Homo sapiens: one gene and its partners. The protein of the gene in region 3 purifies or fractionates together with the protein of the main gene of each other region. This does not show direct contact. Each region holds a gene or a part of one and is shown on either strand. Other genes may lie near its edges.

Region 1 (2,796 bases), on a different chromosome or scaffold from region 3:
GGCTCTTCAAGTAACTGATGTGCAGTCAAGCGCGAGGACCACTGGCACACAATGTTTAAATTCTAAATATATTTTACTTCCTAGTGTATTGCTACTGACAAAACGTAGTTTTCTGGACTCATCAGAATGTTAGGCTCATACCTTCTGGCAATAAATTAAGGTAGTTAAAAGTAACTGCTGAACCTAAAATGAAGGCAGCAGCAATTAGATATAAAAAAATCTTAAGATCAGCCTGCAAATTGTAAACTAGTTTACAAAGCAGGCTATACAATGAGGAATAATTCGAGCTTGTAGAAATCCATGGTTTCCACCAGATACAGGTATTCCGGATCTAGAATTATCTTTCTATTTGCAGGATTTCCGAAGAGACCGTTAAGCATCTACGCGCCCCTTCCTGGATCCCATGCTTCTTGGGGCAGGAAATTTCTTTTGGTCCGTCGCTTTCGTCGTGAAATACACAACTAATTTTCCTTTCATGTTATAAGGCACCATATTTATGATTTTGTTAACTGAAGAAAAAACCCGAGATAAACCATCTTAAGTACTTTTAAAAGTCCAGTGGCTGAATTCGGTGTTTAATCTGATACCCTTCTGGATTCGCTGACACTGGAGAGAATAATTTCCAAGTCTTAGTATAGCCAAAACAAAAAACTACCGTCGCTAAGCTACATCTACCACTGGATTTTAAAATGACAAAACAGCCTGAGAAAAATCACAAGAGCAGCTAACTCGAAGAAAAATCCTTTTTCTTTACTCAGCCGAACCTAAGACCACAGTTACTTCGAAAGCAACTTCTAATAACCGTCTCACATCCTGTCACCAGTTCAATGACAAAATCTCAGTTTTCAGAGCGTGTGCCAAGTCCAGCACAAAAAGCTGACATCGAGGAGCTCCCAACGCTGCTGTCGCCTCCGCTGGCAGCAGCCGCTCCCGGATTAGACTCGCAGGCTGTTAGGGCAGGGCCTTCGCCACGGGCTTCCGCACAGCGGCGTGCAGTCCTCAGCTCGGCCGGCGCGGTCTCCGACGGCGCTGGCTCCGCGTACTTCCCCAGCGGCGAGGGCGCGAGGTCCTCACACGGGCAGCACCTTGGCGAGGCCGGCGCCGCGGCCCAGGCGACCCAGTGCGAGGCGCAGCGCGGTGCCGCCGCCCCAGGGCAGCAGCCCAACCAGCGCGGCCAGCAGCGCGGCCACCTGCGCGCCCGCGCCCAGCACCGTGAGCAGCGTGCTGCGAAGGCCCAGCGCGGCGAACAGCGTGGCGCCCAGCGCTGCCATGTAGAGCAGCGCGGGCCGGGACGGCGCTTCTTCGCAGCGCAGCAGGCGTCCGCACGCCGCGCCGCCCCGCAGCAGCGCGCTTCCCGCCAACGCCAGCGCCGAGCCCAGTGACCAGAGCAGCGCGAACTTGCGCGCGCGCAGCAGCAACACCGGTGCGTAGAGCGCGGCTAGGCCGAAACACAGTGCAGCCAGCAGCAGGCACCCGCCGCCCGCCGCCAGCCGCTGCCCGCGCGTCACGCTCGGGAGGCACGTCAGGCCGGCCGCTGCCGACTCCGCAGGGCTCCGCGCCCACGTCCAGCGCAAGCCCGCGCGGCCCAGCCACTCCTCCGCCGGCCGGTCCCCGGGCTCCTCCGCCTTCTCCGCGGCGAGCAGCGGCTCCGCGGCCGCCGGGCCGCCAGCTTTCCCCTGCGCCAGGTACTCCTGCAGCTGGCGGTGGAGGTCCGCCATCTTGGACAAGGCGGTGGCAGAAAGGAAAAGCTGCGGCTCACTTCCGGCCCTCCGCTGAAGCGGTTCGGTCTTCGGGCGGCAATTGGTCGGCGACGGCGAAAGGGGCAGGGCCTGCGGCGCTCGCGGAAGTGCCGCGGTGCCTGCTCTGCGGACTTTTGTGGTGTCCCCAAGTACCGTGGTCGCAGGTGCTGCCTGTCCGCTTGCAGTCGCCCTCCCAGCGCCTGACCCTCTTCCTTGTTCGGAGTAGGCGCCCTTGCGGTCTGGCTAAGTCCTGCCAGCATTAATAGTTGGAAGGCAGGGGTGGGTGTGGTTCTAAAGGGGCACAAGAAGTGACCCTTTTGCTGACGGAAATGTCTTATGGCCTCACTGCGTCTACCGTGGCGGTGATATTGTGCTAGTTTTGCAACATGGAGGAATGGGTAAAGGGTACACAGAATCTCTCTTGTTTCTTACAACTGAACACAAACAGTGATCTCAAAATAAAAATTTAATTTTTAAAAAAGTTCAGACCTGTGTAACTCAGGTGGGTTTTTTGGGGAAAGTTGCGTTCTGATTAGTTACCTCACTTGTAGTAATAGTGACCATCCTGATCATTTACCATGGGGTTGATAAAGGAAGGGTTGACACCCAGCACCCTCAACCTGCTTCTCTATTCTGTTCTCAGTTTCGGCCACAGGCCTGGCAACATCCTTGACTCCTTCGCGCCCCTTGTCCAAGACTCGGTGCTGCTGTCCCATGTGTTTGGTGTCACTCTCGTGCTCTGGACAGCGCCACGCCCAGGTGTCCTGACTCATCGTCACATCACTGTGACAAGCTGGCTCGCACGCAGGTCAATCCTGATCTGTTCCCAGGCCGCACCCACGTGCCCTGCTGTTTCTCAGAGCCTCCTAGAGGGTGTTTGCTTGTGGTTCCTCTCACAGGTCAGATTCCTCCAGATTCTTCCAGCTGCCTCCACAGCTCCCCTCACCACCTTGGCTTCCCCTGGGTGGCCCTGTGTCCTTTGTCCTCTGCCCTAGGTGGATGTAAGGTTAACGGCTTCCTGCTGTTTGGCTTCTCAGCCTTTCCATCCCCTGTGTGT
Region 2 (3,751 bases), on a different chromosome or scaffold from region 3:
AAAAAAGACCAGCAAGGAGTGTAAGAGTAGTCCTTCCTGCTTTCCTTGGCCATCTTTGCACTGGGCCAAGAAATGATTTATAAGCCTCCCATCCCCCAATGCGGCTAGTGCATCTAAGTCATTGCAAAGTGCCATCTGTTATTTATTTCCCTTCTACAAGTTGGTCACATCCTAAATTGAGTTCCTAGAGGGAAGGAACCATGCTTTTTTTTTTTTTTTTTGAGAAGGAGTCTCGCTCTGTTGCCAGGCTGGAGTACAGTGGCACGATCTTGGCTCACTGCAACCTCCGACTCCCTGGTTCAAGCGATTCTCCTGCCTCAGCCTCCCGAGGAGCTGGGATTACAGGCATGCGCCACCGCGCCCAGCTAATTTTTATATTTTTAGTAGAGACGGGGTTTCACCATGTTGGCCAGGATGGTCTCGGTCTCCTGGCCTTGTGATCTGCCCGCCTCGGCCTTCCAAAGTGCCGGGATTACAGGCGTGAGCCACCGCGCCCGGTCGGAACCATGCTTTTTAGAAAAATAAAATGCAAATCTTCAAGAAATACTTGTTCAAGTTATTCACTGTCAATAGATAACCACGAATAAACACCGTAAGACAGGATACCGAAAGTGAAAAGCAGATGGTAGTTAAGTATTCTGCCACATATTAACAAAATGAACTGTTCAAGTTACTTAATTGTACTTAGTTCCACATTGATAAAGTAGGGATAAGGTTTATGACCTACCTCACAGATTTGTGAGTTAAAATGAAATCACGTAAAGAGCTTAGCACATACAGTAGACGCTTAAAAAACACTGAACAATAATAATGAGCTTGAGCTTCTTTCTAGATTTATAAAATGAGGGTAACAATATCTGTCGCTGAATGTGAAGACTGAACAAGATGATTCACCACTTAAAGAGTATAGCACAGTGCTTGGCACACAATACTCAATATTACTTAACTTTTATTGTTGTTAGGAAAGGAAACTTAAAAGGTGACATTAGGAGCACGTATTGGGGCGGGGGGGTGCGGTGGGTTGTTGCTAACCTAGTCTGAAAGATGAACCTGGGAATTCCATTGATTTAAGTGTGCATAACACAACCATGTCCCGGGCACAAGCTAAGCCCTGGATACATGGAAGGTCCCTCCCACACCAACTAAAGACAGGAAGGCAGGAGGTCTTCAGAGCTAGTCATGTGAGGAACCTCTAACTGCAGGGGTTCCATTCTTCCTCCCCAGGCTAGTCCCTGGGACTGGGTCGGCAGACACGAAAGGCACCTCAGGAGGCCGGATCCGGCTCCGCCCCTCCAGCCTCGGACTAGCCTGGGCTTGTGCTCACAACAGCGGTAGAGTTTAGTGTGGAAAAGGGCGCGGGCCAGACCTACTCCTCGCCCCGCGCCCCCAACCCAGCTCCCCACCCGCACCTGGCGGTCAACTCCCGCGCAGTCCCACTCACCTTGACAGAGACTGCAGCTCCTCAGCGGTAACCACCCTCCCCGGGCCTGCTCACCTCACCCCACGATATCAGATCCGAGAGGCCTACGAGGAGAGGGGACTCGTAGGCAAGAGGAGAGAGGCCCGGGGAGGGGGACTGTCCTGGGTGGAGGCCTCGGCAGCGCCGCCGAGACAACTCGGCCCTGATCAGGGTCAGCTCGGAGCCGAAGGGGCCGCGCCTGCCCTAACGAGGAATATATTGGAGGGCGGGGCTTTCTCGCGAGAAGGGGGCATTTTCGCCGCTGATTGGTGTAATTCTTTTGATGGATGGCCTCCGCGATCCGTAAACGGCTGGGCCGTGGAGTGAGAAGTCCGGCCAATCGGCTCACACTTCCCGTTATCTGGCCTCAAATTCCCCGGCCCCCTTCCACGCCCCTACCTCTAAGCGTCTCTCATTGGAGAATTTAACAAAGTGTCTTCATTCAGTAGGGGGCCAAACTAAATACTCGGTGCAGCAACCCTCGCCTGGGTCAGGTCAATCGGCTGCCAGCCGGATTGGCCGGCGTATCATTCCAGAATGTACTGTTTGTTCTGTGGGGTTTAGGAGTTCTACAGTGGTTCTGCCCCATCTTTCTAAAAATACAGTGAGTAGTTAAAAAAAAAAAAGTCAACCTTTGATTTTTAATTACAGATAAAGAGGTGGTGGAATTTATATGGTTTGGTGGTTTATCAACTTCCAGAGTGCTCTCTTCGTGAACTTTGGAAGTCAGTTGATTCTTGCCTTAGTTTGCTTTTTATACAATTTATCAAATAATGGAGTTGGACTGTGTAATTTCTTGACCCTCTACCAATTTTCTGAATTTGCTTTTAAAGCAAATTTAAAGAGAAAAGTTGGTACAATTTTTCAGTTGCTTAAAATGAAAGGTATGTGGCAGACTGTTAACAGGAATAATTGTGGTGAGTGTGAATCTCAGTCTACAGACCCGAGTGTAAAGCAGTATTACTCTTTGTATTTACCATAATGAATTTAATCTCTGTGAGCCTCTCCTATGCCAGATTAGTGGGAAAATAATTAGCCTGAACTCTTCTTAGACTCTCCTCACTCTCACTCTCCCAGATCATCACAAGTGAGAAAAGTCCATTTGTAAAAGGGCCTGAAAAAGGGTGCACAAGGAGTCATTTCTAAACTCTTATGAATTACACAGTAGTTGGATGTCTCTGTTCTCATGGCCCCAGTTCGGTCTCTCTTACTTTGAAAAAGTGAAAATCTGAAAGATTTGCCGTCACTCTGCTATTTGCCCTGCCGTGTACTTACCCAAGGCAATGCCACAGAACAAAACTCTGGAAAGGGGGAAAAGGGGTGGGGAGGAAGGGGAAGGAAAAACAGGAGAAAACATCAATACCTCACAATAATACCTTAGCCACATAATCAGGTCAGTTTAAGAAACTGGGGCTCAAATGGGGAAGAGGCCTTTGTTCCTTTTGAAAATAAAAGCTTACCTAGTGAATATAAATTGGCAATTTATAACCTTTAACAAGTGATTTTATTTAAAAATACTTTTTGCTGTAATGTGTGAGTTTATAAATGTAGTTTCTCCTTTTGGCTTTTAGTTCCTATTATTCCTAATTCCTAAAATTAGGAATGTATATGCACAATTTTTAAAAAAAATGGCTAAAAAATCATAAAATCTTTATGGCAGGCTGGGCGCGGTGGCCCACACCTATAATCCCAGCACTTTGGGAGGCAGAGGCGGGTGGATTACCTGAGGTCAGGAGTTTGAGACCAACCTGGCCAACATGGTGAAACCCCGTCTCTACTGAAAATACAAAAATTAGCTGGGCATGGTGGCACGTGCCTGTAATCCCAGCTACTCGGGAGGCTGAGGCAGGAGAATCGCTTGAACCTGGGAGGTAGAGGTTGCAGTGAGCCGAGATGGTGCCACTGCACTCCAGCCTGGGCAACAGAGCAAGACTTGGTCTAAAAAAAAAAAAATTCTTTATAGCAATCAAAAGCACGAATAAATTAACTAATATTTATTGAACACATAGCATAGGCCAGTGGAGAACAAATTAGACTGGTACCCGTCCTTGTAGAACATGTAACCTGTGGGCAATATAAACACATAGACTTTAGAATAAAATAAACTTATATTCATATCCAGGAATAGCTCATAACTTGTTATGTGACTTTCAGCAAGTTATTTAATCACATTTTCTTTTCTCAACAATGAGAAGTAAAAAATACATTATTCATGGGGTTATGAAGAGGATTAAATAATAGAAAGTGCATAAAGAGGTAGTCACTATTCCCAGATCACAGTAGATTTCTTGA
Region 3 (3,751 bases):
GGGTGTCCTTCCTGCTAATAGCAAGGCAGACTTGAGTGAAGATGATAAAGCAGTTAAATGTAACATTTCCATGGAATATTCCTTATAAATCATTACAAAGTTGGCTCTTCTGTCACCCTGTTAGGTCTCTGGAATCGGGAAGCATAACATTTGATGTTTTTAAAGATGGGAATTCAACACACCCTTACTGAGCACTTACTATGTGCCAGGGGCTGGGCTGGGTGTGGGGATTCTGGGCTGGAAAGCCTGGCCCCGCTCCCTGGCAGGACGAGAGGGGGTGTTAGGCACTCTGGGAATGAAAAGGAGGCAGCTGTTCTGAGCCCAGGTACTTCCCTGGAGAAGGGCATGGCACTCCAGGCAGATGGGAAGGATGGGCAAAGGTGTGGTAGTGGGAACAGCTGTGCTTTAAGAAGAGCTTGCCCTGGCCAGTCACGGTGGCTCAAGCCTGTAATCCCAGCACTTTGGGAGGCTGAGGCGGATGGATCACCTGAGATCAGGAGTTCGAGACCAGCCTGGCCAACATGGTGAAACCCCGTCTCTACTAAAAATAAAAAAAATAGCCGGGTGTAGTTGCAGGTGTAATCCCAGCTACTTGGGAGGCTGAGGCAGGAGGATCACTTGAACCTGGGAGGTGGAGGTTGCAGTGAGCTGAGACCGTGCCATTGCTCTCTAGCATGGGCAACAGAGCGAGACGCCATCTCAAAAACAAGAGCTTGGCTGGGCGCGGTGGCTCACGCCTGTAATCCCAGCACTTTGGGAGGCCGAGGTGGGCAGATCACAAGGTCAGGAGATCGAGACCATCCTGGCTAACACGGTGAAACCCTGTCTCTACTAAAAAATACAAAAAATTAGCAGGGCGTGGTGGCTGGCGCCTGTAGTCCCAGCTACTCAGGAAATGGAGGCAGGAGAATGGCGTGAACCCAGGAGGCGGAGCTTGCAGTGAGCCAAGATCGCGCCGCTGCACTCCAACCTGGGCGACAGAGCGAGATTCTGTCTCAAAAAAAAAAAAAAAGCTCTCCCTTCATGCTGCCTCGGCTCCCAGTTCCAGCCCCTACAGGGTCCAGGTGAAGGGATAAGGGGACAGCCGCTGGGGACTGAGTCAGGTACCCTCCTGGGGAATCCCCTGGAGGGCTGAGCTGGGCCCAGGCTGTGGATGAGGGGCCTCCCAGCCAGGTGCTCTGGCATCTCCAGGGAAACTCTGCCCCTTCCGACATGACCGAGGGGAGAAGATGGTGGTATGCAAGCACTGGCTCCGGGGGCTCTGCAAGAAGGGTGATCACTGCAAGTTCCTGCACCAGTATGACCTCACCAGGATGCCTGAGTGCTACTTCTACTCCAAGTTTGGTAAGGCCTCTTCCTGGCTCGGTGCCTCACCCTGGAGGGTGGCAGTGTGGGCTGTGAGATGGGAAGGTTTCTAGAGGAGCGGGCACGCAGAGGAGGCTGGACATGTCCCTGGAGGCCAGAGAGACCTGTCTGAGTCTCAGGTGTCTGTTCTCCAAACCCCTAGACAAGCAGAAGTGCACCCTGAAGTCCCTGCCCTTTACTGCCCCCTGGATCAAGGTGCATACCAGATACCCCCAAAAGGGAAGAAGGGATTGTTTCTCTCCCCATTCTTGGTTCATCACACACCCAGCCTGACTATATTGAAATGTCTCAAATGAGCCATCTCTCAGGCCCCGGCTAGAACTTCTCGAATATCAGGCCTTCAGAGCCACATTCACGATGCCTGCTGTACCCTCAAAGCCCCAGCACCACTGTCTGCTCTTCCAACGGTCTTGCTATTTTAACTCTTACTTTAGAAGAAACTTTGCATTGTTTCCATAAACGGAGAACTAGCATCACTTGTTGGAAATCAAAGGTCATTGTAAACATAAATCCATGAGGTTCAGAGGTCTAGCACCTAAAGTCATCTTGTGCGGTCAAGCCTGGACCAGCATCTTACCTCCCTCTGGCTTCAAGGCATCCTTTGTCCTTTTATTTATTTTTATATATTTTTTTGAGACAGCGTCTTGCTCTGTCCCCCAGGCTGGAGTGCAGTGGCGTGATCTTGACTCACTGCAATCTCCACCTCCCGGGTTCAAGCCATTCTCCTGCCTCAGCCTCCTGAGTAGCTGGGATTACAGGTACCCACCAACATGCCCGGCTAATTTTTATATTTTTAGTAGAGACGGGGTTTTGCCACGTTGGCCAGGCTGGTCTTGAACTCCTGACCTCAGGTGATCCACCTGCCTTGGCCTCCCTAAGTGCTGGGATTATTGGTGTGAGCTGCGGTGCCCGGCCTCCTTTGTCCTTTTAATCAAGGGACTGTTTATGGGGCAGCTGCAGCCACTTTCCCGCTTACTTAAGAAAGGAATTTGTAAATGTGCTTCAGGTCTCACCCTTCACAATACGATTCTACAGCTCAGAGCTTTTCGGAGCTGGAAGGAGCCTTACGGATTATCTAGTCCAGTGGTTTTCCAACTGTATTCCATAAAGAGTGACCTACAAAGAGAGAGCTGGCAGAATCCCCTGGATGCCCCTGACTCAGGAGGCTTGGCTTCCAAATGTGGCTGCAGCCAGCTTCAGGGCCCCCCAAGCGGCTGCTCCTCATTAGTGCCAATGGGAGGGTCCTGGGTACCTGAGAAGGAGGCAAAGCATTGCCTAGGCCAGTCAGAGCCCCACCCAGGCTAATATTCCATTTCCTGCCTGCTCCTGGGAGGCAAAGGCATGGCAGTTCCTGAGAGCTGCCCCCATGTCTCCCCTGAAAGGACAATGTTTATCCAAGTTCCCCTTGGTCACTGCCTAGCATTCTGTGACTTTAGTAATAAAATGCCACCTACTTAGTTATTCCCTCAATAGCCCTCGGTGTTTGTTTGGGGATCAGGTGCTCCTGGGCATGGATACAGGAACAGGACCAGGTCCCCCTCCGCCCCCAGATAACTCCAATTAGTAGAGGACAGACTTGTAAGCCCATGATTACAAGATGTAATCTACTGTTCTTACAGTAAATGAATGCATATGGCTTTCGAATATCAAAGTGATGATCACTCTAATTGGAATCAGAGTGTTGTTGGGGAGGTGTAGGAGTGGGACAGAGTCACTGGAAGGGACTGGTGTCCGGGGTCTTCAGCCCAGTACCCCCGTCTCTGAAAGGCGGATTGAAGGCTGAGGTGCTGCTGCCACCTGCTGGCCAGGCCAGGAATGCAGAGACGTGCACGCAGCAGAACGGCAACCAGTGTAGATGACTTTCTGTTATCTCCATCCATCAAATGCTGGCCAGCATCACCTAGGGGGTGATGTCACTTTGATTCATTAGAAAGCTCAAGCCCAGAGTCAGCACTCTGCCCAGTGCTGTATACTGACAATGAACAAATGAACCCTTCATGAACGTGAGGAAGCTGAATGAAATGGATGTGGCCTTTTCCCCTCTCTGAGCCCTGGCGTTCTCTGTGAAATGAGAGGGCTGGGAAAGAATGGTGGTTTTAAACTCTTAGGAATCAGGGGTACTCTCCTTTTTTTTTTTTTTTTTTCTTTTTTTGGAGACAGAGTCTCGCACTGTTGCCCAGGCTGGAATGGAATGGCACAATCTCGACTCACTGCAACCTCTGCCTCCCAGGTTCAAGCGATTCTCCCACCACAGCCTCCTGAATAACTGGGACTACAGGCACGTGCCACCATACCTGGCTAATTTTTGTATTTTTAGTAGAGATGGGGTTTCACCATGTTGGCCAGTCTGGTCTCAAACTCCTGACCTCAGGTGATCCTAAGGATC

Evidence for each region.
Region 1: the proteins of CPSF4L (region 3) and WDR33 purify together in Homo sapiens (affinity purification with mass spectrometry; 3 studies listed by BioGRID and IntAct, with this or other methods). This does not show direct contact.
Region 2: the proteins of CPSF4L (region 3) and CCNG1 purify together in Homo sapiens (affinity purification with mass spectrometry; 3 studies listed by BioGRID and IntAct, with this or other methods). This does not show direct contact.

Annotation. Positions count from the first base shown.
Region 1 is NC_000002.12:127,700,451-127,703,246, reverse strand, and holds the end of WDR33 (pre-mRNA 3' end processing protein WDR33), read left to right. Parts: 3' UTR 1-1,070; coding exon of another isoform or gene 1,071-1,718; 3' UTR 1,719-2,220; downstream 2,221-2,796. Other genes in the region: SFT2D3 (vesicle transport protein SFT2C), read right to left, coding at 1,071-1,718. UniProt on the Homo sapiens protein: Essential for both cleavage and polyadenylation of pre-mRNA 3' ends.
Region 2 is NC_000005.10:163,435,495-163,439,245, reverse strand, and holds the start of CCNG1 (cyclin-G1), read right to left. Parts: upstream 1,652-3,751; 5' UTR 1,442-1,651; intron 1-1,441. UniProt on the Homo sapiens protein: May play a role in growth regulation. Is associated with G2/M phase arrest in response to DNA damage. May be an intermediate by which p53 mediates its role as an inhibitor of cellular proliferation.
Region 3 is NC_000017.11:73,255,274-73,259,024, reverse strand, and holds part of CPSF4L (putative cleavage and polyadenylation specificity factor subunit 4-like protein), read left to right. Parts: intron 1-1,191; coding exon 1,192-1,344; intron 1,345-3,751.